2 separate regions of the Homo sapiens genome follow, and region 1 is linked to region 2. A link means that fine-mapping ties the variant in region 2 to the expression of a gene that starts in the linked region. Tissue or cell type: whole blood. Region 2 holds a variant in brackets; the other region holds the start of a gene. All regions are shown on one strand. Distances are between the middles of the regions.

What was found. PIP is the estimated chance that this variant, and not a neighbour inherited with it, causes the effect.
Region 1: it holds the start of EFHD1, and the variant in region 2 is the best candidate, but not a certain one, in a credible set for the expression of EFHD1 in whole blood (INTERVAL, PIP 0.51).

Annotation. Positions count from the first base shown.
Region 1 is chr2:232,631,592-232,635,591 of GRCh38, forward strand. It overlaps EFHD1 (EF-hand domain family member D1), which reads left to right and starts at 2,013. Exons shown (of 4, transcript NM_025202.4): 1 at 2,013-2,415. The coding sequence starts at 2,114. RefSeq lists silencers at 2,051-2,110, 2,188-2,482.
Region 2 is chr2:232,575,111-232,579,346 of GRCh38, forward strand. It overlaps a transcript of EIF4E2 not described here. Among named protein-coding and RNA genes, the nearest start is that of EIF4E2, 27 kb to the left of the region's middle. The variant A/C (reference allele first, on the strand shown) is at 1,882.

The sequences.
Region 1 (4,000 bases), 56 kb after region 2:
TGAGCCACCGCGCCCAGCCCCAGAGTTTCTTGTTGATGGAGACTATTAAGAATTTTGAACTTTTTCTTTCTTGAGGAGAGCTCGATGGAATAAGAACATTAAAAAAAAAAAAAAACAAAAACAAAACCAGCTGGGTGTGGTGGCTCATGCCTGTAATCCCAGCACTTCGGGAGGCCGAGGTGGGAGGATCGTCTGAGGCTAGGAGTTCACAACCAGCCTAGCCAACATGGAGAAACCCTGTCTCTACTAAAAATACAAAAAATTAGCCAGGTGCAGTGGTGGGCGCCTGTAATCCCAGCTACTCAGGAGGCTGAGGCAGGGGAATCACTTGAACCCAGGAGGCAGGGACTGCAGTGAGCCGAGATCATGCCATTGCACTCCAGCCTGGGAAACAAGAATGAAACTCCATCTCAAAAAAAAAAAAAGTTTTTAAAATATAAAATTAAAAAAAGTTTAATTACACAAAATTTTTGACCTTATTTCTCTGAAATGTGTCACATAAAGTGGTCAAAACAGATGTGACAACAAAGCCAACCTTCTAGTCACCACCACCAGGTCAGGAAGTGTAGCGCCCCGTGATCTATTTGCAGGGTTGCCATTGTATATGTAAAACCCGTATTCTCTGTACCAAGTCAAGTTGTTCAGTAGGAATGTTAAAGATTTTTATACTTTTCTTTAAAAAACGTATTTTCCTTTATAACTTTTTAAAAATAACATTTTAACCCAGGTCCCCCGCATGCCCTGCACTCGCATGCCAAAGGCTGGTCCCTGGGTCTCAGACAACCATAGTCCAGCGGGGTCACTGACCTGCCCCAGTCATCAGCCCATGGTGGGTCAGAGCAGCGTCGTTCTCAAGTGGGGACAGACCCGTGTTTACAAGATTCTCAACGCCTGGCTGATGTAACAGCGGCATCAGCCTTCCTTGGGGAGAATGACGACTGTATTTGTTTTTACCCTCTTGTTAAAAATGCTGATTTAATTTTCAAGCTTCTTTTCCTTCTTTCCTTTCTTTTTTCCTCCCCCTCTCCCTCCTTCTTCTTCGTTTATTTTTAGAGCCAGGGTCTCACTCTGTCGCCCAGGCTGGAGTGCAGTGGCCTGACCATGGCTCGTTGCAGCCTCGACCTCCCGGGCTCAAGCCATCCTCCTACTTCAGCCTCCTGAGTAGCTGGGACTACAGACGAGCGCCACTATGCCTGGCTGATTTTTTAAAAGTTTTTGTAGAGACAGTCTAACTATGTTGCCCAGTCTGGTCTCGAACTCCTGGGCTCAAAAGATCCTGCCACCAACACCTAAGTGTTGGGATTGCGGATGTGAGTCTCCGCGCCAGGTTTCTTCTCTTTTCTTGTGCGTTTCACGCAAAAAAACCCGAGTCCCTGAAGCTACGCTGCTTTCCTGCCTCTAGGGAAAACGGGAGTTTTTTCTGCTCGTTTGCTCTCTCTCTTTTTTGTTTGCTTATTTGTTTTTAGTATTTTTAGCATGTTTTGGAAACATTTCGTTCCAATGAGTGTTTGAAAAGCAGCTCCCCCGCCCCACGCTCCGGGCGGGCGCCTCCCACTCCCTGACCCCGGGGAGGGTGGGCACCACTCCCAGACGCGGGGGACGCGTGGGTGTCGCTCGGGGGCGCTCGCCTCCCCCACCCAGCCTGTCCCGGGCCGCGAGCGCTTCCAGTCGGGTTACTTCTGGGGGACAAGAAAGGCACCGTCTGAACGGTCGAGACGCTTTTTCCCGCTACGGTTTTCCCCGGAGCTGACAGGGGCAGCAAGGTCGGAGTTGATCCGAGGGTCCCTGCCTGGTCCCGGGGGGACGGTCAGCCTCCCGCCCGGAGCCGCGGGGAGAGGAAGCAGGTCGGGGTCTCCGGGACGCGCAGACACCCAGACACCGGCGGCCTCCTCCCACCAGGCTGGCAGTCGCTGAGCCCTGGCGCCTCCTTAAAGCCGCAGCTCCGCCCCGACCGCCCCGCCCGCCAGTCCGTCCTCAGACCCTCCCAACCGCCGGGTCCCCGCCGCCTCGGCGGAGTGTTGTAGAGCCTCGAGCCTGCGAGGAGCGCGCCGCCCGCCAGCTCCCTGCGTCCCGTCCCGCGTCCCCGCGTTCCCGCGTCCTGCGATCCGCCGCCATGGCCAGTGAGGAGCTGGCGTGCAAGCTGGAGCGCCGGCTGCGGCGCGAGGAGGCCGAGGAGAGTGGCCCCCAGCTGGCTCCCCTCGGCGCCCCAGCCCCGGAGCCCAAGCCCGAGCCCGAGCCTCCCGCCCGTGCGCCCACGGCCAGCGCCGACGCGGAGCTGAGCGCCCAGCTGAGCCGGCGGCTGGACATCAACGAGGGCGCTGCGCGGCCCCGGCGCTGCAGGGTCTTCAACCCCTACACGGAGTTCCCGGAGTTCAGCCGCCGCCTCATCAAGGACCTGGAGAGCATGTTCAAACTGTGAGCTCCCGCTGCGCGCCCTTCGCCCCCGGGACCAGGGAGGGAGCGGGAGGGCTTTCTGGTCCGAAGTCCCGGGCCCTGTTTGTGTGGGGAGGGGTCCCGGGGTGCAGGTAGCATTTGGCCCAACGCAGCCAGATCTTGCGTGCTCGGGTCTATCTCGGCGCGGTGGGGGACGGGGCCGAAGAGGGGGGACACCAGGAGCAGGAGCTCTCCGGGACGGAGCCCAAAAGTTCTCGGCGGCTGCCGGGCCCGAGTTCCAGGTCCCCCAACCCCGACCACTGGTCCCGCCCCCTCCGCCCGCCAGTCCGGAGATTTGCTCCGAAAGCAACTTCTAGGAAAGGGAGCCGTCGCCGCGCCTCACCTGCCAGCTTTCACTGTATCCCCCCAAGGGAAAAATTAGCCCCTGTTGGCCTTTTATCTTTTAAAACAAAAGGGGAAAGTTAATCCTTGGCTGCAGCGCGGGGTCTGATGAATGAGCGGAGGCCGAGAACGGGGAGTTTGGTAAAGTCGTTGTAAGAGATTCAGGACTTTCCTGGAGCAGGCGCGGCCCGGGAGCCTCCTGGGGGCGCGGGGAGGGGGGGCGGTTGTGGGAACCGAACTTGGCCGCTGGCACCGGTCCGGCGGGGGCTCGTTGCGGTCCTGCTCTGTGAGCCCCAGTGCGCGGGGAGCCGCTCACCTGGGGAGACACTGAGCCAGAGGCAGGCGATAGAGACCCACTAGTCCACCTCGTCGCCTGGAACCTCCGGGGATCTCAGTTTCCTCATCTGGAGAGTGGGAGCAGTAACAGTCCCTGCCTTTTAAGGCCGAAAAGTATTTTGCACCCGGTAAGCTCTTAACCGAGCTATTAATATTTCCAGAATTGAGCCGAGACCGGAAAAATGCCTGGGGGAGCTGAGGCCGCCGGCCAGGTCATGCTTGGGCGTTTTTAAAAGCGCATGGAATGTGTTTGCCCTCCGCGTGGAGGTTCTATTTAAAGGCGCTGTGACTGGCGCTGCGTCGCCTGAGCCTCCGCTGCCCCTGCATGGAGGTTTGCAGAGCCGGCACTTGGGAGCCTCCGCCTCCTCTGCCTCCCTGACACCCTGGTTTCTTTGTCTGGCTTCCAGGCACTGATCTGTGGCGTTTTCTGGGTCTAGTTTGGGCAGTTCAGGAAGGCCCAGTGCGCTAAAGAATGCGGCTGGGGCGAAAATGGAAAAGCAATGGGTGAGGCAAGGTTTGTTGGAGCCCTTTGATTTCTCTGGGGTAATGCCTTTCATGGGAAGACTGCCCTGGCCGGGCTGCTCCCAGACCCCACCAGTTCCTCCCAGTCCAGCTGGATTCAGGGGATCTTGGGGAGGGACCTTTATCTTCAAGTTTTCTTGTGGCCACTCAGGCTTCTTTTGTTTTTCCTATAAAACAATCTTTGGAAAGATCAACTTGTAGTTGACTACCTAAGAGTGATAAAAAGAGTCCATATGCTCAGAGGGTCTTGGGAGACGAAGCAAGGTGGCATCTGTGAGCAAACAGGTACTGGACCAGGATCACGCAAAGGGGAGCCGGGCACAGTGGCTTACGGCTGTAATCCCAGCACTCTGGGAGGACGAGGCAG
Region 2 (4,236 bases):
CCACTAACATCCCTAAGAAATAGAGTAGTTGTAAAATTGGAACAGAACATGTCAACTGTAGTAGCTACCTCAAAATTCCCCCTTCCCTAGAAGGAGACGAGCGTTTTCCAGAAAAGGAGACCTGCATCCCTCCCGTGGGCTAGAAGAGACAAGATGACACTCTGAGGGACAGCAGCAGGTGGCCAGGGCCTGAGAGCTCAGGGGTGTAGGTATGATATACAGATAAAACACAGTTGCAGAGTTCCTGCACACACAAGTGATGCCACCCATACCTTTTTTGTTTTGATAGTTTGATTTCTTTATTATAAATTCAGTCTTCTGGTGGCTTAAAATTTAAAATGATTCTCTTTAAGATATAGTCAACATTAGTGCCTGGTATCATGGCACACGCCTATTGTCCCAGCTACTTGGAGGCTGTGGTGGGAGGATCACTTGAGCCCAGGAGTTCAAGGCCAGCCTGGGCAATATAGTAAGACCCTTGTTTCTAAATATATGTCTGTGTATGTGTGCATATATATAAGTGTCTGTATATATAGTCAACATAGAATTCCAGGAGTGCTGCTAGTATACACAAAGAGGGAGGAAAAAGGTACCAGCTTTAATAGTAGATAAATCATTGATTTTTAGGCTAAAAAATAGTAAATATTTGAAATAAGATATTAAGTTAAATTTTCAGAAGCCAGGTGCTATAATGGAGCTGTTTTTAAAATACTACCATATTTAGTTATTTCTAAGATTTTTTTGGCTTTTAATATTTTTTTTCAATCCTGTTCCTTCTGTAAGCCTTTTAATATTCTTAAAATTGGGGTGCTTTGCTGGGCGCAGTGGCTCACGCCTGTAATCCCAGCACTTTGGGAGGCCAAGGCGGGCAGATCACGAGGTCAAGAGATCGAGACCATCCTGGCCAACATGGTGAAACCCCGTCTCTACTAAAAATACAAAAATTAGCTGGGCGTGGTGGCACACACCTGTTGTCCCAGCTACTTGGGAGGCTGAGGCAGGAGAATCGCTTGAACTCAGGAGGCGGAGGTTGCAGTGAGCCAAGATCATGCCACTGTACTCCAGCCTGGCAACAGAGCGAGACTCCATCTCAAAAAAAAAAACTGGGGATGCTTACAGTGAATGTGATTTTAAAAGGTTTTGTCATAGTTTAATGGGCAGTGTTTACTTCTTAAAGTACATAAAATGATGTACCTTTAAAAATTGATGGCATCTGAGGTTCAGTGAAAAGTCTTTAAAATGAAAGCGGAATAGTCAGAATGGAAGAAAACTCAAAATAACTCCCACCCCTCTTGGCAGATTTAATCCCCTAGGAAAAATATCTTTGAATTGCCGTAAAAAGTCATATATTTGCATAATTGCCATTTTGTGGTCTCTTTGTGGCCCCCGTGTCTTTTTTTATACAGTGTGGGAGGCAGACGAAGAGAACACTCGTGGTTCAGGTATTTTCCTTAAAGCACAGGCTTGGAAGTCCGTGAAGAGTGTTTGAATTTAAACCAAAAATTATTCTGAAAGTAGGGGGGAAAAATGAATTTACACAGCAACAACAAAAAATCCACTCACTTCATTGTCTTAATAGACTTGAAAAGGACTTCATGTCGCATTTCTATTGATTTAACCTCGCTGTAAGTGAAAGAGATGTTCGAGAAGATATGCATCCCTGGCTTACGTTTGTTGGGTCTGCCATTTTAGAGGCCCCTTAACATTTTAGCCCTCTCTCCCTTTTCTTTTTCCTCCAAATAGATTGTGATCTATGAAGAAATTTGGCAGAGAAACTGCTATTTAAATAATTCTTCATGAATCACAAATATTTTTCCTCAATTTATCTGCTATTTTATGTCATTACCTGTGACTGTTAGTATTTTAGGACAATTTCATTTG[A/C]CTCCTGTTGGAAATAAGTGTTGCCCTTTTAACTATGACTTCAGTAAAACTCTCAGTGAGCTGATAGGAAAGGATTCTGATTACTCAGCTGTCTAGGCTGGTATACACAGAGCAGTGAGTCTGTATTGTTGGGAAATGAAGTTGGAATAAAATAAAGTTGAAGACGAGAGACTGGAATTTGCCTCACTGAAACTAGAAAGAGTTTGCAGCTTTACTGAATATGCAGGGAGAGAAGAGGAAGCCAGAACTGGCCTGGGGTGTACAGCTAATGGCCAAAGAATGTTCTCCTGAAGACCATGTGCACTTAGGTCTACGGGACCCCTCAGAGCCAATCTTCAGAGCAGAGACATAGGTAGCCTTCCTCCTTGGATGACTCCCAGCTTTCACTTGAGAACCCAGAATCACTCAGGTGCCTTTGCCAGGCACCAGCACAGTGGCAGTTAACTCCCAAGAGAGGGGAGGACATTCTGAATGACCACTTTGCCCCCCTGTCATCCATTTTCAGGAGTTAATCTCTGCCGTAGTTCATTGTTTTCAGAGTTGGAACTTGTCCATTTCTCTAAAAGTACTAAAAGATGACCATTTTAAGGTAGAGCAGATTGGAAAGCTGTTTCAGAGTATTTGGACAACGATTTTCCCCAAGATACCTGGGAATGTGAAGTTGGAAGCCAGTCTGAATGGGGCTCTCGGATATTTCTGAGACATCATCAGGACAAAGGAACATCTGGTAGAGAAATAATTCTTTTTTTTTCTTCCAGCATTGTGGGACTGTCAGCTTCTGTGTCCTCTTTGGTGTCCTAAGCATAGCCCATTTGCTGTCACAGCTTTGCCAGATTGCTAGAGGGCTAGCTTTCAGGAACTCACTGTGGATTTGCTAAATTTTAGTTTGCTTTTAAAAGAACAGAAGCACATTGTTTTTTAAGGGGTCGCCTGTGGCCTCTGCCCCTTCCTTTCTACATTCTCCCTTTCTCTGCCTCCTAATCTCTCTGCGCTGAGCCTAGGGTGAGGGATGTGATGGAGTATCACTTCCCAGCTGGCTTGAGGTGAACACATTCCTCAGACCAAATTTGGCATCAAGCTGTTCTCAACCCACTTTTTTAAAGAAGGCTGGACCAAAGCCATAGGGCATCACTGCCACCAGCCTGTGTTAGTCTGTCACTGTCAGGAGCAGGCCACCCCCATTTGCTGTTCTGTTTTCCTCTTAAATCAAACTGGAAAAACTCAGCTGGATTCTCCTGGCTTTTCCTTTACTCTTCTCCTCCCCCTTTTCACTTTGCAAGTGGACTTTAGAATATGATTTCTTAGGTTTTCTGACTATAAAGTGGTCTATATTAACAAAAATATTAAGTATCTGAATGAGGCTGGGCACGGTGGCTCACGCCTGTAATCCCAGCACTTTGGGAGTCTGAGGTGGGCGGATCATGAGGTCAAGAGATCGAGACCATCCTGGCCAACATGGTGAAACCCTGTCTCTACTAAAAATACAAAAATTAGCTGGGCGTGGTGGTGCACGCCTGTAGTTCCAGCTACTTGGGAGGCTGAGGCAGGAGAATCGCTTGAACCCAGGAGGCGGAGGATGCAGTGAGCTGAGATTGTGCCACTGCACTACAACCTGGTGACACTCCATCTCAAAAAAAAAAAAAAATCTGAATGAGAAAGTGTTTTTAGAGCTCTCCAGTTTATCTGCTACAGAGAAAGAATTTATTTCTGGCCCACCTAGTACAATAGAGAAATTCTTCCAAAAGATAAGATGACCTGCTTATGGTAATGATTACCCTGAAAATCCTTTTTCCGTCACTAAACAGCTGAAAGAGTTGGGGCCAGACACTTGCCTGCCATCTCCTTTACTCCAAGATAGATAATTGCCCAAGTCAGCAAATTCTCTGCTCCTACCTTCCCATATCCCTGCCTTTCTAGTTTCTTTTAATAAGAAGAGCAGAATCCCTCCTGATAGACTTGTGGTGTCCAATGATTAGGTGGGCATAGACGTGCCTGTAAAAGGGAAGAAATGGAACAGAGCCATCTGTTCCTGTGAAATCACTTTCTTTAGTATTAAGTGTAGGTACAAAAAAAGTGTCTTTTGTAATGCATCTCTGTAACACAGCATATTTTCCCTAAGAGAACTCAGAAATACACACACACACACACACACACACACACACACACACACACACACCAGTTATGCTTGCTTTTCTCTGTGTTATGATCAGATATGTTCCTTATCCTTTGCTAGCTACTTGTGGCATCTCAGAGGGGTCTATCCTTTTGAAAAGAATTTTTTAAAAATACCATTAGCCTTTTAAAAAGATGACCACCCTATTAACTTTGTTTTCAACCTTCAGCTCTTTAGTTGAA